Regions from separate parts of the Homo sapiens genome. Here regions 1, 2, 3 and 5 are each linked to region 4. The links come from fine-mapping of genetic effects on gene expression. A gene starts in region 4. Each other region holds a variant in brackets. All regions are shown on one strand. Distances are between the middles of the regions. Region 1 holds the start of SETMAR (SET and mariner transposase domain methyltransferase). Region 2 has its middle 160 kb from the start of LRRN1. Region 3 has its middle 180 kb from the start of LRRN1. Region 4 holds the start of LRRN1 (leucine rich repeat neuronal 1). Region 5 overlaps CNTN4 (contactin 4).

Region 1 (5,106 bases), 510 kb before region 4:
ATCACATTCCGTACTGAAGACCCAGAAACTGAAGTATGATACTGTAACATTCTAGGCTTAAAACCTGGGCCTCTGAATTATAAAGAAGTGTTGTGAAAATCTTCATTCCTTTTTTGGTTGTGTTGAAACCCCAGCTACAAGAATCTTTGTACTTGGCCTCTAGCCTCATAAGTTTGTTTTTCCTCCAAGCAGCTATTAGAAGACTGTGAGCCAGATAATTCTTGTCAAGGCCTGTTGAGATCTAAAAATAATGTTTGAAGCTGGTTTCAGAGACCTGAAAAATGGTTAGATCCAACTGTTAGCTCAATAAAATCAATTAGTTTATTTTCTACTTGGCTTTCAACACTGATGACATTATGATATGCTTGTTTCCAATATGAACATTTGAATTTCTTTTTGCCTTTTCACACAGTAGCCAAAGGCAAAACAGACACAAAGTTATTTTTATCTTGAAAGTTTTTCATGCCTTAATTCTTATGTGTGCATATGCCTGTGAAGGCAGGGTTTGGAGCAAGCAAGCTGTTTTGACCTTTTATAAGACTGGTTTTGTGTTCCATGAATACATGGAAGAAAACGAGTTGAATGCACTTTTAGGCTTGTCACTTAAATGTTTCAAGCATGTTTGATCTTCTTGGTAAGAAAGACAATAAGCTCTCTTAGGAAGGCATCCTGTCTTATTTTTGTAACTCTAACTTTATTGGGAGCTGTGCATATACAGAGATAGTTAGAACACTGTGGGACTGGGTTTTAATCTCCCAATTTTCATTTATGCCCACCAACTGTAGATGTAACAATCAATCACAAAGCTTCCTCTTGTCACTCCTTTCTCCCCTTTTAAAAATAGACGTATTTATTTTAATATACACTTTGAGAAATAGAAAACCTCATGATTTTATGGACATTAATGATTACAATGATTCTAAGGGAGATACTTATATAATTTATTTTTAAATAATTTAACGCTTAAAGTGAGTTAATTAAAAAAATACGTCGGGCACATAGTTTTACAGATTGTTCTTGGATATGGCAAAGAAAAATATGACTCAAGATTGGAAACAGATTTATAGAATAGTCTCAAACGCACACACACACGCACGGCAGGAATATTGAAGCTAATCGTGACAGTTGTAAACACCTTGAGGGTAGAGTGCGTTTTTCTGTTTGTTGTATTCTTTGCAGCCCAACCCACCACCTTGCATATATTTAGCTCTCAATAAATATTTGTTGAATTAAGAATGGACTAGAACAGTGGTTTTTTAAATCAGTGTTTTTGACCAGGAACTCAGCAATGCTTAGTCCTAAGTTTTCAGGGACCACTGTTTAATATTGGGCCAGCTAACTGTATTATTAACTATAAATTGCCAAAGGTAGTCTGGGGAACAATAATAATTTCTGACATTAATATCTTATTCTACTCTTTGAGGACTAAACTCTGATTTTTTCTTATCTTGCCCAAATTCCTACCCAAGGCACCTGGGGAGTCATGCCTTACAAACCATAAAGTCTCATCAGAGGAGTTTTAATTTTAACCCTATATAGCATGGTCTGCTTTCTACCTGACTCTGGCATAACATCAAATAACAAATAAGGGAAGAAATCAAAATATTTTAACCCCAAATATATTTCCTTGCCATATCTTGAAATTGCCCTGGAGGGTTGTCTCTTGTGGGAAAAATCCACATTCTATAGAGAATCCCCTTTCCCCCTCTTTTTCTTTCTTTCCACAACAAGGAGATAATCAACTAAGACCGAGGCACCTTTTTAAGTTAGATAAGAAACATTTTACAACCTGCTCCCTCTGAAGTCAGCTGGGAGTCTCCTCCCCACAATTAAAACTTGGGTCTCTACATGGCCGGGTGCGGTGGCTCACGTCTGTAATCCCAGCACTTTGGGAGGCCCAGGTGGGTGGATCACTTGAGGTCAGGAGTTTGAGACCAGCCTGGGCAACATGGTAAAACCCTGTCTCTACTAAAAATACAAAAATCAGCTGGGCGTGGTTGTAGGCGCCTGTAATTCCAGCTACTCGGGAAGCTGAGGTGGAAGAATCGCTTGAACCTGGGAGGCGGAGGTTGCAGTGAGCTGATCGCACCACCACACTCTAGCCTGGGTGATGGAGTCAAGCTCCGTCTCAAAAAAAAACCCTTTATCTTAACCTAAACATTTCTATTGATCCCAGGTCTTCAGACAAACTCAACCAATTGTTAACCAGAAAAATTGTTAACCAGAAAAATTAAAATCTACCTATAGTCTGGAAGCCCCCCCCACCACTTTGAGTTGCCCCGCCTTCTGAACCAAACCCATGTACATGTTAAATGTATTTGATTGACGTCTCCTCTCTCCCAAACATGTATAAAACCAGGCTGTGCCCTAACCACCTGGGACACATGTTCTCAGCATCTCCTGAGGGCTGTGTCACAGGCCATGGTCACTCATATTTGGCTCAGAATAAATCTCTTCAAATATTTTAGAGTTTGATTCTTTTCCTTGACATCTTTGAAAGCTGCTATTGAATCTCTTATCTTATCTGATCCTCACAAAAACCCCTAGGAAAAAGAAAGGGCAGATAGGGTTCATTGTTGATAATGGATGTTAAAGGGGCTATGCATTTTTAAATTATTATTTTCATTTTGCAGATGAAGAAACTCAGGCTCTGGGAAG[T/A]AGCTAAGATGTCTAAGCTCCGAACCATACTCTCCAACTTCCACGTCCAGCGCTCTTTCCACTTCAAAATCTTTGGTCATTCCTTATTCCTTGGGTAACGCTCAGGCCAAGGTCGGAGGGATAAGAAAGTCAGTAGAGGCTGGGAGCGTGGCTCATGCCTGTAATCCCAGCATTTTGGGAGGCCGAGGCGGGCGGATCACCTGAGGTTGGGAGTTCGAGACCAGCCTGACCAACATGGAGAAACCCTGTCTCTACTAAAAATACAAAAATTAGCCGGGCGTGGTGGCCCATGCCTGTAATCCCAGCTACTCGGGAGGCTGAGGCAGGAGAATCGCTTGAACCCGGGAGGTGGAGGTTGCGGTGGGCCGAGATCGCGCCAGTGCACTCCAGCCTGGGCGACAGAGCGAGACTCAGTCTCAAAAAGAAAAAGGAGAGTAGAAAGGGCTTTGAGGTAGTTAATAGAAGCAAACATTTACTGAGTTCTTACAGCAAACCGGAAAGTGTATTTTCCTTGCCATTTTCAAAGCACTCCGGAAGAGAGGTACTGTTCCACTGTACGCTGGAAGACTCTAAGGCTGAGCCACAGCTAATTTACACTCGCCCAAGAGCCCACAGCGTGAGGGAGACCACAGCTAAGGCTGACTCGAGGGGCTGTTTTTATGCACGACACCGGCTGCGATCCATTAATAGGCCCCACGGCTTATCCTACCTGTGAGAGACACCTGAGACCAGGGAGGTAAATGACTCCCCCCGTGATGCCTCCTTGAGTTCTGAGGACAGGACTGGACAAAAAGCCAGGTTCTCACAAGGCCTCCGGTTCTGCGCTTCAGGGAATGGACTGAAAAGGACAACACCCTTGCTAAGGTGATGCCGTGGGTCAACAGAAAAAGGCCCAGGCCGGGGCATGCACACCTATTCCCGCGCACCAACGGGTGCGCTGTAAGAGAAGACAAAAGGTCGCGACTGGGAGGCCGTCCCAGCGAGGCGGCTTGAGGAGACCACGTGGGGGAGCCGCGCGCCCGCCTCCCGCGCCGCCTGGCCCCGCCCCTACCTGGAAGGGCGCCGGCGCGGCCCCCGGGGGCCACGCGCCCACCGGCAAGTTTTCCTGGCCGCACGCGACATCCAGCTGCTCAGTCGGGGCCTCAGGCTTCTCCTTAAACTCCGCCATCCCACAAGGCCGTGTCGTCTTTGCCGCTTCCGCGAACATTTACCCGCCTCACGCAACGCCCACTACCCTGACAGTCCTGGGCCGCGCGGTGGATGCTGGGACTTGTGGTCCCGTGGCCCCACCGCCTCATGGGAATTGTAGTTCGTTTCTTCTCAGGAGTGGCCTGGAAGGCGCTTCCCTTCCTTGACTTTTTGGGTCTGGCTCCCGTTTTGATTTCAGCCAGAGGCACCACAGATAATTACAAAACCATGTAAGGTACGGACGAAACAAAGTGAGGTGCTTTAGTTTTTCCTGGGAGCATCAGAGAGGGGGCTTTCGAGGTGAGGTCATTTGTCCAGGTTTTTGAGGGCTCACTGCACGTTTGTGGAGTGGAGGCAGGGGTGCGTTCTAAACCGAGCGGGGAAACGCACACCAAGGTTTCTAAAGGTCTGCGGCTTGCCGGGAAGTTGACTGACATGTGATAGGGTTTGTGCCAAGGCGATAGCCTCACAGGGTGCCTTAAGGAATTTGTGTGGGGGCATGCTCACTCCCTGATGGAGGTATCCGTGCCCCTTTGCCTGTCCTTTTCCCTCCTCTCCATCCCTCTACCCTCACCCCTCCAAACCCCTGCCCTGCCAAAGGATTCTGATAGCCTCAAGACTGCTGAATCCGGTGGAGCATTTTCAACCTCACTGAAGCTCTCTGACATGATTGTCCTGCTTCTCCTTGAAACTGTAAACCAAAAATAAAATTCCAATCCTCCAAACCATCTGAAGGGACCCCTCCTCTCTGCCAAGGTTAACCTGAGAAAGTGGTTCAGGCCATGATGGGAAGGGGGGTCCAACATGCCTCATTATGCCCTTCTTCCTTTTGGAATTCAGGAAAAGCCAGCCAGCATCAACATCAACACACACCTTAAGTCTGATAAGAAACATTTACAATCTGTTCTCTGAAATTTACCTCTTGGAGGCTTCATCTCCACGATCAAATTTGGTATCCACAACCTCTTATTGCAACCCAGACATTCGTTTCTATTGATTTTAGGTCTTTAGATAATAACCAGTTGCCAATCAGAAAATCTTTAAATCTACCTATGACCTGGAAGCCACCCCTCACCCGCTTCTCGTTGTCTGCCTTTCCAGATCCAACCAATCTTACATGTATTGATTGATGTATTATGTCTCCCTAAAATGTGTGAGAGTAAGCTGTATCCCAACCACCTTGGGCACATGTCATCAGGACTGCCTGAGGCTATGTTGGGGGCGCATTCTTAAGCTTGGGAAAATAAACTTTCTAAATTG
Region 2 (5,106 bases), 160 kb after region 4:
CCTCCCAAAGTGCTGGGATTACAGGCATGAGCCACCATGCCGGGCTTGTATTATTTATTTTTAACAAAAATCAGAAAGCTCATTGTTTGATGATGAATGACAAACCTATAATTTATATATAAATGATTGACTACTTTGCAACTATTAATATGTTTTCAAAGAATAGCTTAGAAAATAGGAAAATATTGCAAATATAACATTAGGTGAAAACAAAATAGGACCCACAATTATATATGTGAATGAGTCATTGAGTTAAAAACCACCCTACCCTGTCAATAATGGCTATATGTTGGAGATAAAACTTAGGGCCATTTTAATATTATTCTTTATAAGTTTTTATATTTTCAAATTGTCTATAAAGAGTATGTGTTATAGTTACATTTTTAAATGATGAATTATATTTATTCTTTTCCATATTTATTATTTAGTTAAAAGAATTATTTTATGTATTCAAAACCCAAAAGTTAGTTAATTGCAAAGTCAGCTAATCAACAAGATTCCATTTCTCTGAATGCTTCCCTTGGTTATAATTGTACAAATTTCTGCTCGAGATATGCCATTTAATAATTATAAGTAGTATTTTTGATGTTTTAATTGGTATTTTTTGATATTAATAACATAATTTCATATATTAAGTGATTATTATTTCTACCAATTGTTTTTATATACTGAATACGAAGATATAACTCTTTTCTATACATTCTGTTGAATTCGTCAATTATGAATGTTGGAGAAAAATTATCAACTATCCTACTCCATTCATCTCTGGCTGTTCTTGTGTTACTACCATATATTAACTGTATAGTACCTAATTTTGTGATATGCCTTCCATATCCAGCAGAGTAAGTCATTCTTGCATGGGCAAATTATTCTCCCTTTCCTCTGAAGCTCTTCTTGTACTTCTTTTTAAAGTAGTCTCAGCTGTTGATTTTTTTGAGAGGTTCGTTGGTATACAGTAGAACTTGTTTTCTGAGATAAATAGACTATGACACTTAAGATTACGTAGTTGGGGCCAAACTTTTAAATATATATTATATTTGAGTTGATGATATAAACCCCACTACTAAATAATTTTCAATCAAGAATTCACGCCTGTAATCCCAGCACTTTGGGAGGCCAAGGTGGGCAGGTAGCTTGAGTCCAGGAGCTTGAGACCAGCCTGGGCAACATAGTGAGACCTCTACTCTACAAAAAATACAAAAAAAATTAGCCGGTATGGTGGCGTGCACCTGTAGTCCCAGCTACTCTGGAGGCTGAGGTGGGAGGATCCCTTGAGCCTGGGAGGTGGAGGTTGCAGTGAGCTGAGATCATGCCGCTGCACTCCAGCCTGGGTGACAGAGCCATTTTCTGATTTGCCATTTACTAAACAAGTGACGTGTCACTTTCTCGGAGCCCTAGCTTCCCAATCAGTTCAAGGAATATTAACTAGTCTATGATTTCCTCATGGGGTGGTGTAAAGATAGAAAGTGATCGTTGAAACTGTAAAGTGCTATGTAGATAGAAATAAGAGGTAGTGTTGCATATAAGATGGCTGTATGCTCAGTATGGCTGGCTGGTGGCCCACTTTTCTTTGGTTTTGGCCACAAGGCACCCTCGTAAAGGGCATTAGGCTTTCTACTAATATCCCTTTTCCTTGCATAAATGGAAGAGAACAGCTAGCTGACCGAACAAAACTAGCTTTAAAAACTAACTGCTAATTTTGAAAAAGAATCTCCCATCTAGAATATTTGGAACTAGTTCTATTACCTAAGAGGTTGTGGAGCTTTTTTTTTTTTCCTATAAACTACAGTTCCTGTATTGGACAGTGTTAGGGGCTGAATTGGGCCCCACCCAAATTCATATGCTGAAGTCCGAAGCCCTAGTACCTCAGAATGTGACTGTATTTGAAGATAGGGTTTTTACAAAGGTAATCAAATTAAAATGAGGTCATTAGGGTAGGCACTAATTCAGTAAGACTGGTGTCTCTACAAGAAGAGGAGATTAGGACACAGGGACAGAGAGAAGACCCTGTGAGGACACAACCAGAAGGTCACCATCTGTAAGCTGAGGACAGAGGCCTCGGAAGAAACCAACCCTGTGGACACATCCATCTCTCTGACTTCCAGCCTCCAGAATTGTGAGGAAATAAATTTCTGTTGATTAAGCCACCCAGTCTGTGGTACTTGGTAGTGGCAGACCTAGCAAACTAATACAGATGGCCATTCTAAGTGTTTCTCTCTAGAAAGCCACAGCACATAAAATACACATCTGGTCTTCTGACTCCAAGGTGTTGGGGTAATTTCAGTAAATAAAACTTCGCTCTAGAAAAGGCTTTGTGTTTTCATTACCTGCCATACTACGGCTTTTCATGGAGAGCAGGGACAAAGGCCAAACCCATATAAATTCAGATGGAATTGTTCAAGGGGTTGTTGTAAATTCATCACTTCTGGGTTCCAAGGAATTCTCAATCCCTCCTCTCCTGCAGCCTTGGAGAACAAGGTTCTGTGGCCTTCCGTGGGCGGCATCTGTTGCTTCTCTGTGTGCTCAGCCTCAAGGCTACGTGCTCTGCTTGTTTGTAAGTGTCTAGCTAAAACCAGATATGTTGGATTGTTGGTGATGGCACTGCAAAATGAAGTCTCTAGCTCGCAAATGTTTTGTATTCATCTTGGCCAAGTTTAGCAGATGAGACCTGAAAGCATTTTGTTACTCTCCTGGGATGATGGCTAATTTGACCCTGGGGCATCTTTGGAGCAAGATGCATCTTCCTC[A/G]GAAGTTGCTTTCCCTTCCAAGATAGTCCTGGAATGTGCTCAAACATGCTCTGTTGTTTGTACTTGTTCCTGCAAGAGCCTGGGGCAGTGCTCCGGCTGGAGCCAGGTTGCCAGGGCTCTGCCATTTCCTGACTTTATGATGTTGGGCAAGTTATTTAACCTCACTGTGCTTTAATTTCCTTTCCTGTGAAAAAAGATAATCCTACTACCTACCTCCTATGGTAGTTGTGAGGATTAAGCAAATTACTGCAGGTAAAGTTATTAGAGCAGTACTTGGCATTGTAGTAGTCTTTCAATAAATGTTACCAGTGTGGATGGAATACACCAGCTGTTCAATATGAGTTCTTTTTTTCTCAATATTCTAGAATGAGAATGGAGTCACAAAATTTTTGCCATGTAAATGCTGCAATGTATTTGCTCCCTTGGGCATAAAAAAAAGTATTTATTGAGATTTCTTATTTTCCAGGCACCATGCTGAGTAATTTATGTGCTTTATCTTAGTTAAACCTCGTAACAATCCTGTGAGGTCAACACTCTGTTCCAGTTAGGATAGGTTAGGTCATACTGCAGTAGCCAATAATACTAAAATCTCAATGGTTAATGGAACAAAGATTTATTTATTGTTCATACTGTCTTTTCAATGCAGGTAGTCAGGGGTCTCTGCTTACCATTATTACTCAGGAACCAAAGCCAATGGAGGATGATACTGTCATCTCAACAAATGTCTTCAGGACTAGCCATGGGAGGGGAAGAGAGCAAGGGGAATTGGGTGCCAAGTCTTCAATACTTCTACACTGGAGTGCTACACATAATTTCTGCTTGGATTAGCTGCAGAAAGTCAAATGACTATGCCTAACTTCAGGAAGGAGTATGTCTGGAAGAAGAGGAGAAAGAATAATCTCAGCACATACTGACACTGTTCCTATTTTATACCTGAGAACACTTTCAGCTTAGAGGAAAAGGGAAAAGTAGTTGGTTCAACATCACATACACACAGTAGTAAAGGGAAAGCCACAATTCCAGTATTCCACTGGCTCTAAAATTAGTGCTTCCAGTCTCTTTGATCACTGCCTGTAGAGGCTGGTGACATTCTTGCTGGAGCCTGTTGGGAGTTGAATTGTGCTCACCAAAAAGATATGTTGAGATTCTAACCCCTGGAACATCTACATGTGCTCTCATTCGGAAATAGGGTCCTTGCAAATGTAATCAAGATGAGGTCATATTCCATTAGGGTGGGCCCTAATCCAATATGAATGGTGTCCTTATAAGACAAAACAGAGACACAGACAGACACATGGGGGAAATACCTTGTGATGATGGAGGCAGAGCCAAAAATGCCAAGGATTGCCAGTAACTCCAGAAACTAGGAAGAGACAAAGACAGATACTTCCCTGAGTCTTGACAGGGAGCAGGGGCTCCCAACACCTTGATTTTTGACTTCTAAATTGTGAGAGAGTAACTTTCTCTTGTTTAAAGCCACCCAGTTTGTGGTACTTTTTTTATGTCATCCCTAGGAAATGAATATAGAGCTTATCCTGTAATTCTGTGTGTTGGATCTTAATTTTCACATTGTTTATTTAGCCACATGTCCCTTCTAACAAGCTTGGGCTCTTCTCAGGAGCTATCTCCTTCAGGAAGCCTTCCATGAGAGGGCCCTGTGCCATGTCTTACTCTTGAGGTCTGGTACTCTCAGATCAGACAGTATCTGATGCTGACTAGGCATTCAGGAAATGTTTGTTGAATGAATACAATGGCGTTGGTTTCTATTCTTTTTCTCTAATCTTCTCACCAGAGTTTAGATGTTTCAACTTTGTAACAGGATGGGACATCTATTTCAGACTTGGAGAGACTCTGAAGAGTTTGTCAGAGGACAGACAGTTCATTAGTTGGTTCTCATTTTGAAATGCTTGAACTCAGGGAACACATCTCAGCTTCATACACAGAGCCTTTGTGGTTGGATCCATGCTGGTCTTTCAGGATGGGTTCTCTGGAAGCAGATGCCAGATGGAGTTTGGGACTGAAGATATTTATCAGAGAGCAGTGTTAGTAGAAAGGAAGGGGAGTAGTATTGGACAAAAGAAGTCAAATTGGGATGCAGGCCTGACACAGCCTTGTCAACCTATCTGTGAGGGAGCTCTGGAAAAGTACCTCCAGGGTGTCATCCATCAGGCCAAAGTCGTCGGTCTTTACAACCTGGAAGGGTAAAACTCTGACAAAGCAAGCGCACCTGAGGCTGACCCTGAGACAGTGGCAGCGGAAGGCCATCTGCTGACTGCACCTCCTGTGGCTGGGGTGCAAGGCTTTCTTTAAAGGGTAATTTAGGTGGCCCATATTTTTATCTGTCTCTCTGACTTTATTT
Region 3 (5,106 bases), 180 kb before region 4:
TTGCATATCCTCCCATCAGAGTAGTTCAATAGACTCTTTGGTGTCTGCTGAAGTCTGGCTTTCTGGGCTCCCTCTCAAAAACGGCATATTTAGCCTTACTCTTGGCATCACCTCTGCAGGGCGTCGGACAGCACTGCACCCATGGCTTTGCATAAGTTCTCAACCCTTCAGAGGAATGAAGGAAGCTGCAATTGCCCCCAATTCATAAGCCAAGGGTCTAGGCACTGCCTTCTTGTTGAATGCTGACCAACATTCAAATTTAAGTATTCTTGCCTATCTGATAAGCAAAAATGTTCCTGATGTTTTAACTTGGAAGAAATTATTTCAATATCATGATTTCCATAATTTCTATCATTTGGTGTTCTTATAAAAGCTATCTCTCATCTTATTCTGGAGATCTTTCCTTCACATAGGAACCTCTACATGACACAGAAAAGAAAAGATAGATGGGCGGCGAGAGTCTAGATTTATATTCTAGCTGTTATGCATGGTGAGGCCAGCTTAAGAAACACGTGGCTTTTGAAAGACTTTCCATTGTATAAGGAGCAGACCAGACTTTTAACCACAATCCAGAGACTTTTAACTTCACAAAGATATGGCATTTTATTTTAATAAAGCTATCGAGAGAGCTCCCTTTTCGAGTGACTTTTCAAACGCATCTTTTGTCAGCAGAGGGCTTTTATTAGCTAATGTAACCTTTCTGTACTCCATGTTAGCAGAGAGAGAAAGGAAATGTCCTTGGGTTCCAAATGTGGAAAGTTGTGCAGAGACTCTCAAGGAGAAAGAAGTTTTCCGCTTTCCAAAGCTGCATTTGTCACTCGCTGTTGTATCGTAACTGAAAGTAATGAACTTTCCGATGCTACTGTCCAGAAGGTAAAGGTTTACAAGATTATGCCTCTAAACTGGCAATTGCATAAAAAGAGATCACCAAGGATTAAAATGTAGAGACCAAGTAAAAGTGTGAATTTAGCTGTGAGTGATAACTTGTAGAGACTCAGCTATAAAATACCTGAAATGGGGGGAGTTAGGCAAGACCTAGGAGTGAGGAGTGAGAGTAACAGTCTTGGCTGTGGAACAGGGTAGCTAGATGTTTAGGGCTTAATCCGAGCCACTACTGATAATTAAACAGCATCGATAAACTGAAGGAGCATGGGGAAGGAGTATGGATTGTGGGCTCCGGGTGCAATTCATGTGGGGTGTCGGTGTTGTGGTTCCATTAATCAGTCGTTTGATGGAAGAGCTCAGTCAGTAGTGGAAGAGGCTGGTGGCAGGGGCTTTGACAGGTCTTAGGACACTGGGAAAATAGATTGAGATTCTAGAGCAGGGCTAGTGCAGTGTGGGATCTGAACGTGTTGTCAGGACTGAGCCCAGCCCTTTGATTACAGTCAACATAGTAGGAATGGAGAAAGTCACACCTAAATGGGAACCTGAACCAGGGCTTCATTTCAAAGCCCATGGAACAGATAGGGAAGGGTGACTAATGACTTTTCTACTGTTGCAGACTGGCTTACAAACTGAGTAAGGCACAAAAGGAAGAACTGGTGTTGATAGCAAAGTGTCATCAGAGAAGGCAGGAAGGACACCCTGTCATACTGCCCGTTGGCTCCCCAGATATCACTATTTTTTTTTCCTCATCCTTGTTAGGAACTGGCAGGTAGTTGTGCTTGATGTCTATTAGACTTCATTTCAATTTTGAGGTCCATAATTCAATGGGGATAGATATAAAAAGGCTTCCTTTTTCATTAAAAGGGTAATTACCTCGTTATCAGAGTGCTGGAAAGATGAGAGCTCATGGATTTTTCATAAAATTATAAGTTTATAAGGAGTCGGGTGAAGTCATCTTATTCTGTCCTCAAGCCAGGGACAAATCTAATTCACCCTTGATGGATGGGACATTGTTTAACAAGGATCTCTAGAGAATAAGCGTTGATAACTTTCAGTATTTTGCAACCTTCAGTTGTGTTATTTCTTCTATCCTGTTGAATATATTGACACAGAATGGAAGTCCATAATTTTTTTGTTCTCTTTGGGTAGAAAGAATAGTGTTATAAATGTACTTCATTTTCATTATGTTAAAGAATACTTATCAAATGCCTTGTATGTGCTTGGTGCCAGATACAGCTGTGACACAGGGAAGAAGACAGACTTGATCCCTGCTGTCATTTAGCTGTGAGACTCATGAGGGATAATAACCAATAATCACATCAGTAAATGACTACAAATTGTAATAAGTGCTGTGAAGGAAACACTAAGGCATTGCTACAGAGGATAACAGGAGGAAGCTAAGACCTCACTGAGCCTGTGGCTCCGGCCGCTGAGTGATGGTCCCTTCTGTCTGCCAGGGTGGGATCGGGCACTCATCCAGTTGCAGGTGCGAGCACTATTGAGTAGCACAGGGTCTCAAGCTGTGGCCATGGACTTGGGCAACAGGAAATTAGAAATATCCTCTGGAAAGCTGGCCAGATTTGCAAATGGCTCTGCTGTAATACAGTCAGGTGACACTGCGGTAATGGCCACAGCCGTCAGTAAAACAAAACCTTCCCCTTCCCAGTTTATGCCTTTGGTGGTTGACTAC[G/A]GACAAAAGGCTGCTGCAGTAGGTAGAATTCCCACAAACCCTCTGAGAAGAGAGATTAGTACTTCTGATAAAGAAATTCTTACACGTTGAATAGTAGATTGTTCAGTTAGACCTATCTTTCCAGCTGGCTACTTCTGTGATATACAGGTTCTGTGTAATCTGTTAGCAGTAGATGGTATTAATGAACTTGATGTCCTAGCAATTAATGGCAACCTCTGTAGCCCTCTCATTATCAGATATTCTTTGGAATGGACCTGTTGGGACAGTATGAATAGGAATGACTGATGGAGAATGTGTTGTTAACCCAACAAGAAAAGAAATGTCTTCTAGTACTTTAAATGTAGTGGTTGCTGGAGCACCTAAAAGTCAGACTGTCATGTTGGAAGCCTCTGCAGAGAACATTTTACAGCAGGACTTTTGCCACGCTATCAAAGTGGGAGTGAAATATACCCAGCAAATAATTCAGGGCATCCAGCAGCTGGTAAAAGAAATTGGTGTTACCAAGAGGACACCTCAGAAGTTATTTACCCCTTCACAAGAGATTGTGAAACATGCTCATAAACTCACTATGGAGAGACTCTATGCAGTTTTTACAGATTATGAACATGATAAAATTTCCAGAGATGAAGCTGTTAACAAAATAAGATTAGATACAGAGGAACAACTAAAAGAAATATTTCCAGAGGTCGATCTATATGAGATAATAGAATCCTTCAATACTGTTGCAAAGAAAGTTTTTAGAAGTATTATTTTGAATGAATACAAAAGATGCGATGGTCGGGATTTGACTTTACTTCGGAATATAAGTTGTGAGGTAGATATGTTTAAAACCCTTCATGGATCAGAATTATTTCAAAGAGGACAAACACAGCTGCTTTGTGCTGTTACATTTGATTCATTAGAATCCAGTATTAAGTTGGATCGAGTTATAACAACTATAAATGGGATAAAAGATAAAAATTTCATGCTGCACTATGAGTTTCCTCCTTATGCAACTAATGAAATTGTCAAAGTCACCGGTATAAATAGAAGAGAACTTGGGCCTGATGCTCTTGCTGAGAAAGCTTTGTATCCTGTTATTCCCAAAGATTTTCCTTTTGCCATAAGAGTTACATCTGAAGTCCTAGAGTCAAATGGGTCATCTTCTATGGCATCTGCATGTGGTGGAAGTTTAGCATTAATGGATTCAGGGCTTCCAATTTAATCTGCTGTCACAGGTGTAGCAATGGGATTGGCCACCAAAACCGATCTTGAGAAGGGTGAAATAGAAGATTATCATTTGCTAACAGATATTCTGGGAATTGAAGCTTACAATGGTGACATGGACTTCAAAATAGCTGGCACTAATAAAGGAATAACTGCATTACAGGCAGATATTAAATTACCTGGAATAACAATGAAAATTGTAATGGAGGCTATTCAACAAGCTTCAGTGGCAAAAAGGAGATTTTACAGATCATGAACAAAGCTATTTCAAAACCTCAAGCATCTAGAAAAGAAAATGGACCTGTTGTAGAAACTGTTCAGGTTCCATTATCAAAATGAGAAAAATTTGTTGGACCAGGTGGATATAACTTAAAAAACTTCAGGCTGAAACAGTTGTAACTATTAGTCAGGTGGATGAAGAAACGTTTTCTATATTTGCACCAACACCCGGTGCTATGCATGAGGCAAGAGACTTCATTGCTGAAATCCGCAAGGATGATCAGGAGCAGCAATTAGAATTTGGAGCAGTGTGTACTGCCACAATAACTGAAAGCAGAGATACTGGTGTAATGGTAAAATTATATCCAAATATGATTTTGGTACTGCTTTATAACACACAACTTGATCAATGAAATATTAAACATCCTACTGCCCTAGGATTAGAAGTTGGCCAAGAAATTCAGGTGAAATACTTTGGATGTGACCCAGCTGATGGAAGAATGAGGCTTTCTCATAAAGTGCTTCAGTCTTCAGCTACAACTGTTGTCAGAACTTTGAATGACAGAAGTAGTATTGTACTGGGAGAACCTATTTCACAGTCATCATCTAATAATTCTCAGTGATCTTTTTAAAGAGAATTCTAGAATTCTATGTTTTCTAGGGTAATGTGCTATAGAGCAAAATTTTAGTAGTATCTTCCGTTGTGTAGCTGTGTATACAGTATAAATATATTCTAATTATTTGTATTAAAATGCTCATTTACATGTGCCAATTTTTAAATTCAAGAGTAACCCATATTCGCTTAATCTTATTTACATTATAAATCAAGAAATATTATTAAAAGTAAGTCATCCATACATCTTAGAAAAGATTACATACTTTTTTTTCTATAATTCTGAAATATATGAAAAACTTAGATATATGTCATATATGTTATTATAACAGATCTCTTCCTATATCTCATTTGTCTTCTTTATATACAGTAGTGACAATTTACCCTCAGTCATCCTATAGCTCACCTCTTTGCCCAACAACTTTACTTGCCTACGACTGTTCACAAACTGGAACAGGCCATATTCAAAGCCAGTGCCTATTTCTTCAGAATG
Region 4 (5,106 bases):
TCACGCAGCTAATGTTAGACACGGCAGAAAGGCCCTTGCTCCAGAGTCTACTGCACGACTACCTCCCCGTTCACTGTTATGTGACCTGAAAACCACTCGGGTAACTAGGGTTGGGACAGTTGCATCACCTGCAGTTCTACAGTTTGGTGCCTTAAGAACCGAAATGACTTTGGCTAGACAGTGGACATTCTCAGCTAGACAGTGGACATTCTCAGGAAATCTTCATGTCGGTCAACGACAACGATCTTCTACTATAATGAATAGCTCTGAAGATGAGGACCAAATTTGAGCAAGAGTCAAATTATTAAAAGAAAACTCGAAAAGTTGAGGGGTCAATTCAGAAATCACTTCAAGCCGCCAGAAGTGGGTTAAAGTTACTGTCTGCTTCACACAAACCTTTTCCTAACTAGCTTAGAATATCCAGCTTGAATATTGCACGAATATATACAGCCAGGTAAAGAGCAAGCAGCACTTTGAGCTTTCAATACAATAGCACTTAAAGAATTTGGCTCCTGAATAAAGGTGTCAGCAAACCATGGAATTCCCAAACAGAAAAACTCACACTGCGTCTTTATTCTCTTTTCTTAAGGTCTATTGTTAACTGAAGACTCCTTGTCTTTTCAAATTCCTTCATGTGAATGGATGAGGCCAGACATCTGCCAGGATCCGCTCACATTTGCATGCAAATCAGAGACTTCGGGACACATATGGCCCTGGAGCCAATAACACTTTTACTCTAGATTTATACTGATCAAAGTGCCTTCCTGAACTTTCCACTCCTCCAGCCCTAGCTTTTAAAAATGAAATAATGAGCCTATTCCACTAACATGATTTAGATTGTCATGGCAAGACAAAACAAAACATGTTGTCTTTTAGAAAATCCTCCACGCAAAAGCCAGAGTCGGCAGCACCTGTTCCCTCACCCAATTAGAATTCCACTTTTCCTTTACGATTTAGGTTTGGGAATGAAAATACTTACGGCGGGATGGGATTTAGACTCTTAGCCTTTGCCTGTGAGCTTCAAGTGCTTCAGAACCATTTGTACCCCGGCCAGTCGTTCACTCACGGCCAGGCTCTGTTCTTGGCGCTGGGGCCGCGGCGGTGGACACGGCAAGCGAGGTCCCCTTCTCCTGGATCCGGCATCCGGGCCGAAGCGCCTGGTCCGCGTTTCCGCGCGGGCTCCCCTGGAACCGTCCCGGGACACGCGGCCCTCTCGCTGCTGGACTTTTCCCCGAGCCCCAGCTTGCCAGGCAGGGACTCCCTGGGCGGGCGGCGGGGAAGCGCCGAGTCGGCGGCCGCCCACACCCCTCTCCACGCAGCACAAAGGACACTCGCCGGCAAACTTTCCTCGCTTCTGACCCGGGCCGAGCCGGGAACTCAGCGCCAGCTCTGTTCCTGGCGGGGCTGAGGCTTCCCTCACATTCCAGGCCACCTGGCAAACGTCCTGAGGCTGCCACTCCTTCTGGGCTCAAGGCTCACGGGCTGAGGTCTGTCCCCGCGTGGAGCTCAAGGCTCACGGGCTGAGGTCTGTCCCCGCGTGGAGCTCAAGGCTCACGGGCTGAGGTCTGTCCCCGCGTGGAGCTCAAGGCTCACGGGCTGAGGTCTGTCCCCGCGTGGAGCTCAAGGCTCACGGGCTGAGGTCTGTCCCCGCGTGGAGCTCAAGGCTCACGGGCTGAGGTCTGTCCCCGCGTGGACCGCCGAGAGTTCGGTAGATCCTTCCCAAGGCTCTGACTTCAATACTTTCAGTGCCTTGTCAATTATACCCCTTGCCCCTTTCTCTTACCAAGGCCACCGCCAAGACACCCTTTTTCTTTCCTCTCCCCGTCGCCCGCCACCTTCCTTGCCCTCCTCTTGGCCCTCTTTCCAGCTCCCTGGGCCCCCTTTCCGCGCTGCTCTCCAGCCCCAGCTGCCTTCCCCGGTTCACATCCCGGCAGCCCTCCTCCCTCCCCGTCCCCGGGCACCTCCCTCCCCTGGTCGGCCCCTGAAATCCAGCAGGCTCGGCTCCGGTCACTGCCTTTTTTTGCCTGTTTCTATCTGGCCTGCCTTCCCAACTATCGCTCTCCCACACCTTTTTTTTTTTTTTTTTGGCAAGGGGGACGGGGGGAAACGGGGCACTATATTCTCGTTTCCCGACTTCGTCATTTTCCCCAGCTCCGTGAGCCGCGCCCCCTCGTCCCCCTCAGGCCCGCGATCTTACCCTGAGGTTCCCCAGACCCCGTAGGGTCTCCCACGCCACCAAGTTTGCCTCGACTTCCCCTCGCTGCCTCCCACACCTCCTGCCGCGGCGCGGCCGGCCAGGGACTTACCCCGAGGCCCAGCTGGTGGGGGTGTTGGGGTGCGCGCGGACCCGGCACCCACGGCGGCGGCGGCGGCAGCAGCAGCAGGAGGAGGAGAAAGACGAGGAGGAGGAGGAGGACTAGCTGAGCGGCGCCTCCTTCCCAGCCCGCAGCGCGCACTGGCTCCTTGGGGCACCCCCGGGAGAGCACCAAGACCGGAGACTAGGCGGCGACACAGGCAACCGCTGCTGCACGGGGCTGGGCTCAGTCGGCTCTCAGAGGCCAGGGCAGGGGGAGGCAGGACTGGGAAGGAGGGTCGGAGAAGTGGGGTGCAGAGGGCGGGGCAGCGAGCGGCCAGGTCCGGAGGAAGGCGCCCCAGGCGCCTAGGGATGCCGCCGCCCGGGCTGACGCCGTCGGCCCCTCTCCCCGCCAGGCGGGCGCTTGCAGCCGCGGGCGCACGGGCCTCGCCTCGTTCACCGGCTCGTTGCCGGCGCCCGCGGTGCGCCCCGCTTTGTGCTCCCCGCAGCCGGCGTGCACCTGGTGTAAGCAAAGGCGGTCAGCTGATGGGCCGCGCGCGGATTGGCTGCTCCGCCGTCTCCTCCCCTCCCGCCCGACCCTCTTCGCGGCCTCCCGCCCCCGCCCTCGGCGCGGCCCCGTGCTGGGCACCATCTGTGGACCGCCCAACAAAGGCGCAGCGCGGCGGGGCTCGGGTGGCCGGGCCGCGGTCGCCGCTTTTTGTCTAGGGGACGGCAGGCTGCGGCTGGGCAGGGAGGCGAAGCGCACTGCCGGTTTTTAGCAAAAGACAGACCAAAAGAAAATACACGTCCGTGCTAGGAGGCCAGCTAGGCACAATGGGGCCCCATCTCTTTGCGGCGTAGAACTCGGGCTCGGGGGCTGAGAACCAGACACAGTTCGGCCTGGGGCTGTGGGAGCCAAGTTTCGGGGTGAAATCCGACCCTGCGTCTTAAAATACAGGGCGCGTCCTCGGGCTGTGTGTGCGCGCCCGGGGGCGTCCTCCGCAGACCTGGCCCGGGCCGGTGTCCCTGCCGCGGGAAGGAGGATTCGGACGCTTAACTCAGCGGCGAAGTCGCTTCCCATTGGAGGAGGCTTTCCGAAAACGTTTCTGAAACTTTGAAATTACAGCTTTCTGATTTGTGAGGGGTGGAAGTTGTGTTTAAACAGGCGGCGAGGGACTGAGAAGGCAGTGTTAAGTGGAGGTGTCTCCGAGGAAGGGGAGGAGGGTGGGGACGGAATAGGTCTTCGGAAACTGCGCGTGAACCTGCGTCTCAGCTTCAAAGTCGCCAGCCGGAAGCAGGGCTTCAGAAAAGCCTTGGCACCCTTTATTGGGGGAATCGGCTTTAAGCGAAAGCATCATTAGCCCCTCAGTACTGAACAACTTCTGGCAGAGGAACGTGGTGACATTTCATTATGATGTCTAAACTTAGAACTTCTGGAGAATTTGGAAGGATACATTATTCGAGAATCATCCTTTGGATTCTTCAAAGCCACAGGATACATTCAATGTCAGTAACCATATTCTTGATCCCTGTAACATTTATTGGCGTTTCGCTTAGGTCTCTGATAAATGTTTGACGTCTTTGTGTGTCTTCACACTTTGTTATCCTGAAACTGTGTCATGTAGACATAAATGGTCACAGTTTGTCTTAAAAGTCTTTAGGAAAAGGTGATACTAGCACTTGGGCTAGAAGGTCGTGCAGAGCAGAGGAAGAAAAAGGCCCACTGCTGTCTACAAATGAATGGGAAGATTTAAGATCTTTCAAAGCAAGTTGAGTCTAGACCCTTGCCCAAGTTTTGTAACATGATTTTGTCTCTTTCCCCCCTTTTCATGCAGATTATCCATGGAGTTAGCATGCAGATAGCATGGAGTTTGTCTGATAGAAGTTGGGCTCTGGTGGAAGTACGGAAATTGAATGGTCAGGGAAAGATAGAATGCAGGTTTCTTAGGGAGTCTCTATTAGGTTTCCAGCCTGCCTTCCTGGGAGTGGAAGAGAGATGAGGTTGTGCCCTTCAAGGAGGAGCTTTACAGAGGTAGGTCTTGGAGGAGCAGTCGGAGCAATTAATGATGGTGAGAGTTGCTCTTGGGAGGCCAGATCTAGAACAGCCTCCAGGTTTTGGAAGAGACTTCATGAGAATGGTGTGAGTCAGGGACCAAGGTGTGAATTTTGAAACCAGGCCAACACTGCTTAGGTCCCAGCCCTGCAATTTATGAGCTGTGTCCCTAATGGCAAGTCACTTTATCTCTTTAAGGCTTAATTTCCTTGGCTCTAAAGTAGGGTTAATATCAGTACTTATCCCAAAGGATTGTGATGGTTAAGTGGGAGTAAACATGTAAAATGCTTAGGACAGTGCTTAGTATATAGTAAGCATTCAACGACAGATGTAAGCTCTAGGCATTATTAGGCAGGTATTGAAGACTAAAACAAGACATCAATTCAGACAGGTGGGATAATGATTCCGCATGTGACAGAATATCTCAAAGGCACTAGCTGCTCCAGTGGAGGAAATGGACTCTGTCTCTCCACTGTTCGATTCATTTCTTTTCAAATTAGCATATCATTTATTTAAACTAATTTCCCTCTTCCCCAAGGCAAGAGTGAGAAAGGCAGCTTTTCCCATTTCTACTTGACCACTGCATGCATTTGGTTCCAGACAGAGAGAAGAGCATTATCATTAGGAAGAAATGTGTGTCAGGGATGGGGGAAGGAATTTGGGTGAGAGGATGGGGCTTGCTGTGGACAGAAGAGGAAAAATGAGCATGACAATTATGAAAGAGTCTGAAATGTGGTGTAATTATTAGAAATTTGCTGAA
Region 5 (5,106 bases), 890 kb after region 4:
GTGGACTTTCTAGTGCTGCAGGAAGCATTAAATTTCCCTCTGTTGGTACTGGACCTCCCCTAGTGTCTGTGGTACAGCCTGATACCAGACCAAGCCATGTTGATAAGACTTTGTTCTCAGGGGGCCTCCCACATAGCCCAGTTTCTGTCATCACTTAGATTCAGGCAAAACGGAAACCACTCCCTTAGGTAGTACTTCCCCCTCAAAAGTAAAAACACTGGATATACCTTCCACTCTTTTCTTTCCCTCCCCAGCAAGAAATTAGGAATTGGAAGTTTTCTACTGATAGCTCTGTGCTACGCTGTGGGGAGTGGGAGGTGCTCCAGCAAGCGAGTGCCATAAATTTTTCTACAGTGCTTTAATGCTATTGGCTTTACACTTGACTGGAGTGCAGAAATCTCTTAACTGGTTTTATTTCTTTCAATGGCAACTGGTCCATTGGGGAAAAAGGGTCTGGGGCTTCCCTTTTGACTATCTTGATGAATCACCCCCCACTACCAAATCTTGAATGTCAGTCTAATTAATACTCCTTAGATTAGGCTCCCCAAATGCAATCAATTTTGCCAGAAGGTGGTGGAGGGGGAAAAATAGTTACTTCATTTATTTATTCATTCACAAATTCAAAGAACTTGGGGTAGATAATGGTAAAAGACATAAAGTAGTAAATACATTTACAATATGACTCAATTCAAACAGGGGAAGGGTAGAAAACAATCTCACTAGAATTAATACAATAGAGTTAAATTAATCCCAGACTGGGCAAAGAGAAAAATAACATATTTCTTACTGACTGATGAAAAACTTTGCCTCTTTACTAGAAGATGCAAACTTTTCTTCTTTTAAGAGAGAAGTTCTACATTTTATGAGAAATTTATTGGAAATATTTTTATGAAAAGGACTAAGGACTTCAAGATGGATCATCTCTTCACAGCAGTTTTACAGAAGATTCAGATATTTTGGTTATAGGATTGTATATAAAGTATTAATGCTCAGTGATGCCTTAGGCTGCATTCTAGAGTAATATTTTAAACTCTGACTCACTGCATTTCTTTGGGGGAATTGATGTAAGGGATGATCATAATATTTATCATAATATTTATCAGCTTTCAATGTCTCCCCTCAGTTGGCTTTAACTACCAGAGTCATGCCATGCAGCACTTTAGCTCAAGCCTCACATGGTAGTCTGTCAAGACATTCTGTGTGCTTTATTCCTATTCACTCTCTTGTTGAAATGGGGCCTTCAGCCATGGTTGGAATCTCTGATGCCTGCTCTTTCTCTCATACAGGGGTACTTCGGATTCAGAGTGCTTTTTGATCCAAAATCAGATGTTTTGGTAGGGAGACTATGTTCAATTTTTAAAAACAACAACAAAAGCCCTCTGTGTAGGACAGATTTCCTATTTTAGGATAGTGGTTCTCAAACGGTGGTCTTGGATAAGCAGCATCAGCATCAACATCACTTGTTAGAAATATAAATTCCCAGGCCCCACTCTAGAGCTACTATATCAGAAATTCTCAGGGTAGAGTTCAGCAATCTGTGTATTAACATGTCCTCTAGATTACTGTGATGCACGATAAAGCCTGATAATCAATATTTTAGGAAAATTCAATGGCTTTTTAAACCTGATCAATTAAAGCAATAGTTCTCAAATTCTGTTGTTCTTCGGAATCACACCTGGGGAGCTTTAAGGAAAAATGCCTGGGTCCTAGGATCAGAGACTGAATTAGTTGATAACGAGTATGGTATGCCATCAGGATAGTAAAGAGTTCCCCAGATGATTGTAATCTGCAGCAAAAATTGAGAAGCACAGAACTGGGATTTACTGGTGATTTCATGGCTATCTCTAAGTGTTTGGTATGGATACTAAGAGAAAAAAAAAAAAGCCCAAACCTTCTTATATTGTTATAAACACCTTTAGGTTTGCAAAGGCTTTCACGTGTAATTCTGTCAGTTTTCACAGTAAGATGAGTAATGACATCCTCCTACTACTGGTACGTATATGATCAATAACTTGATAAAGACACCAAATTTGCTTTTGAGAGCCAAGTGCACAGCTCCCCTCTTCATGACAACTTAAGTAAAGCTCTTGCCTGGATGACTGCAGTTGGGTAAGAAAGGCATGTGTCCTCTCATTCGATGCTGATCACACTCAGCACATCTGATTATTTTGTAACCTGGCTCAACGAGGCAGTTGAGAAATCAGATGCAGATGAGCACTTG[T/C]GAAAGTCCCTATGAAATAACTTTTAGTTTAGCCTTAATGTTTTTCTAATTTGGGAGCCAATCACCTGGGTAGATGCCAAATTAACCAGATAATCGCTCAAGGTTGCACCTCACTTTAATTGGGCCATCAGTTACTTGATGGTATTTGAGTGTCCTGCCAGGGTCAGATGTGTTCCACCACACAGGCCAGGAGAACCCCCGGGATACTGAACCATTAGACATAATTTCCTCAGGATAGAAGCTACTTCTCCTCCATTATACAGTCCTGGAAAAGTCAAGTCATATTCAAAAGACCACTGGGCAGATACCCACTCACCCTTAGGGATGGCTCCTCCCACTGTAAAATCAAAAAACTTTTTTCACAATATTCTCACATATATAAGCAAAATCAAAGATTTTTGACCCCCACCACTTCTGGAACCCCACTTAAGAGGTAGCTTAGGAAGTGATTAACATGGAGATTTTTTAAAAAGCTAGCCTCATTATCTCAAGGTGGAAATGGGTCTGAGGTACAGTTTATGTTCCAGAAATCTCCCTTCTGGATTAGACTTAGGCTAGACTTTACCTAAGACCCCATCCTTGTTTGGTTCCTCCTTCTTCCTTATTCTGCTTTTCCTTACAGGTTTTTCCTGGAGAACACTCTTTCAGTGAATTGCAGATACCTGAATACTTGCCTCAGACTTGCTTTGGAGACCTTAGCTATCCTCTATATTTACCCAATGATTTCAAGTTTGGCAATTTAATCAGCAGTCCCCATCGCCAATATGATCATCTGAGTGGACACAAATACTAAACATGGGTAGAACTATTACTTTAGAAAAGTTATTTTTTCACCAACAAAATACCTAACTTAGTTATCTTTACTTTTTAAGTTACGTATAGAAGATTCAGTTTCCCCATGATTACAAGACTCTATTTACTCTAATTGTAATACACCTTCATGAGTGGGGGAGAGGAGTGGAATGATGGTTATCACCCAGGGAGTTGTACAGCACCTCAGGGATGTCCACAGGGATATATCCCACAAGTGAATCTCATCCATGACTCAGGCTAAGACAGCAGAAAAGATCTAGGAGGAGTTGCCTTGGGAAAAAAATAAACTGCCAATTGTCATAGTTCAGTCACAGACAAGGACACTTCCATTTGATGTACTCATAACCAGGCCTACCAATATACTGACCTCAAGATAAAAGTCTCTCTATGGCGTTTGCCCATCCAGTGAGTAAATCACCCAGCACACAGATTAATTATTTAGCAGTTTAAATCCATTAAATAGACATGTTACATACACATTAAATACCAAGACAGAACACATAAAATAAAACCAAGGGAAAAACCTATTAAATATATGCTTCCTAACCATCTCTTATTCATGACCGTAGGGCTATCACCCAACATTAAAAGGAATCTCCTCTATAGCATTGGAGGTTCCTGATATTTAATCAATAGGTGGAACCAACATATATATTTTTTCTTTCTTATACAGATTATCAAGAGATAATTTTTTTTTTTTTTTGAGACAGTCTCACTCTGTCACCCAGGCTGGAGTGCAGTGGTGCAATCTTAGCTGACTGCAACCTTTGCCTCCCGGGTTCAAGTGATTCTCCTGCCTCAGCCTCCCAGATAGCTGGGACGACAAGCATGCACCACCATGTCCAGCTGATTTTTGTATTTTTAGTAGAGATGGGGTTTTGCCATGGTGGCCAGGCTGTTCTGGAACTCCTGACCTCAGGTGATCCACCCACCTTGACTTCCCAAAGTGCTGGGATTACAGGCGTGAGCCACTACACCCGGCCAAGAGATAATCTTAACAAGAGATTATCTTGTTTCCATTTTGTTTCTTTGTTCAATTCAGCATCCTCATGATTCTAGCATAGGTAATGACAATTTAGTTATTTGATCCAAAAGAGCCAAACTATTCCTGCTATATAAGGAACAAAGTGACTTGTGGAAAACAATCATATTATGTCTTACCCAAGTTAACCAATATTAATTTCTATGTATCTTTAAATAGGCAGATGTCTTCTCCCTTATTCACTTAAGAGAGACTCTACGGGTTTACACACTCAATCTTTAACTGCCCTTCAATTTACCTGAAATATATTACTGGGAATTTTTGGAAGGGAAAATGGGATATTAAATAGGGAACTTGCAAGCTTGTCATTCAAGAATCTCCAAAATTGGTCCTTAATGACTTCTCCATCTTTCTTTTTCTTTTCTCTTTTTCTTTTTTTTTTTTTTTGAGAAGGAGTTTCACTCTTGTTGCCCAGGCCGGAGTGCAATGACACGATCTTGGCTCACTGCAACCTCTGTCTCCCGGGTCTAAGTGATTCTCCTGCCTCAGCCTCCCGAGTAGCTGGGATTACAGGCATGCGCCACCATGCTCGGCTAATTTATATATATATATTTTTAGTAGATATGGGGTTTCACCATTTTGGCTAGGCTGGGCTCGATCTCCCAACCTCAGGTGATCCGCCTGCCTCGGCCTCCCAAAGTGCTGGGATTACAGCTGTGAGCCACCGTGCCCGGCCACCATCTTTCTTTTTCAAGTTTAAATTTTCCGATATATGCTTTATGTATTTGAATCAAAATTTTTATTTTTTTTATTATTTTACTTTTTAGATTGACAGACACAATTGTATCTATTACATACAACATGTTTTGAAGTATTTATATACGTTGTAGAATGATTAAATCCAGCTAGTTAACATAAATTACCTTATATAATTATCATTTTTGTGGTGAAACACTTAACATCCGCTCCCTCAGCATTTTTTGAGAGTACGATATCTTGTTATTAACTATAATCATCGTGTTATACAATAGAGTGCTTGAATGTATTTGTCCCATCTAACTGAAGTGTTGTATTCTTTGAACGACATCTT

The links.
Region 1: its variant is fine-mapped to the expression of LRRN1 in whole blood (TOPMed, PIP above 0.99).
Region 2: its variant is fine-mapped to the expression of LRRN1 in unexposed skin (GTEx, PIP 0.98).
Region 3: its variant is fine-mapped to the expression of LRRN1 in whole blood (TOPMed, PIP above 0.99).
Region 5: its variant is fine-mapped to the expression of LRRN1 in whole blood (INTERVAL, PIP above 0.99).

The regions. Positions count from the first base shown.
Region 1 is chr3:4,302,130-4,307,235 of GRCh38, reverse strand. It overlaps SETMAR (SET and mariner transposase domain methyltransferase), which reads right to left and starts at 3,867. Exons shown (of 3, transcript NM_006515.4): 1 at 3,710-3,867. The coding sequence starts at 3,865. It also overlaps a transcript of SUMF1 not described here. RefSeq lists enhancers at 3,430-3,499, 3,528-4,270 and a silencer at 3,590-3,929. The variant T/A (reference allele first, on the strand shown) is at 2,659.
Region 2 is chr3:3,634,658-3,639,763 of GRCh38, reverse strand. No RefSeq gene overlaps it. Among named protein-coding and RNA genes, the nearest start is that of LRRN1, 160 kb to the left of the region's middle. The variant A/G (reference allele first, on the strand shown) is at 2,748.
Region 3 is chr3:3,981,489-3,986,594 of GRCh38, reverse strand. It overlaps the pseudogene PNPT1P1. Among named protein-coding and RNA genes, the nearest start is that of LRRN1, 180 kb to the right of the region's middle. The variant G/A (reference allele first, on the strand shown) is at 2,576.
Region 4 is chr3:3,797,120-3,802,225 of GRCh38, reverse strand. LRRN1 (leucine rich repeat neuronal 1) reads right to left here and starts at 2,795. Exons shown (of 2, transcript NM_020873.7): 1 at 2,307-2,795. It overlaps LOC100130207 (a long non-coding RNA gene), which reads left to right and starts at 1,351. Exons shown (of 6, transcript NR_149025.1): 1 at 1,351-1,525. RefSeq lists silencers at 2,475-2,584, 2,725-2,814, 2,825-2,894.
Region 5 is chr3:2,906,202-2,911,307 of GRCh38, reverse strand. The region is part of intron 12 of CNTN4 (contactin 4); the gene reads right to left. Among named protein-coding and RNA genes, the nearest start is that of CNTN4-AS1, 150 kb to the left of the region's middle. The variant T/C (reference allele first, on the strand shown) is at 2,222.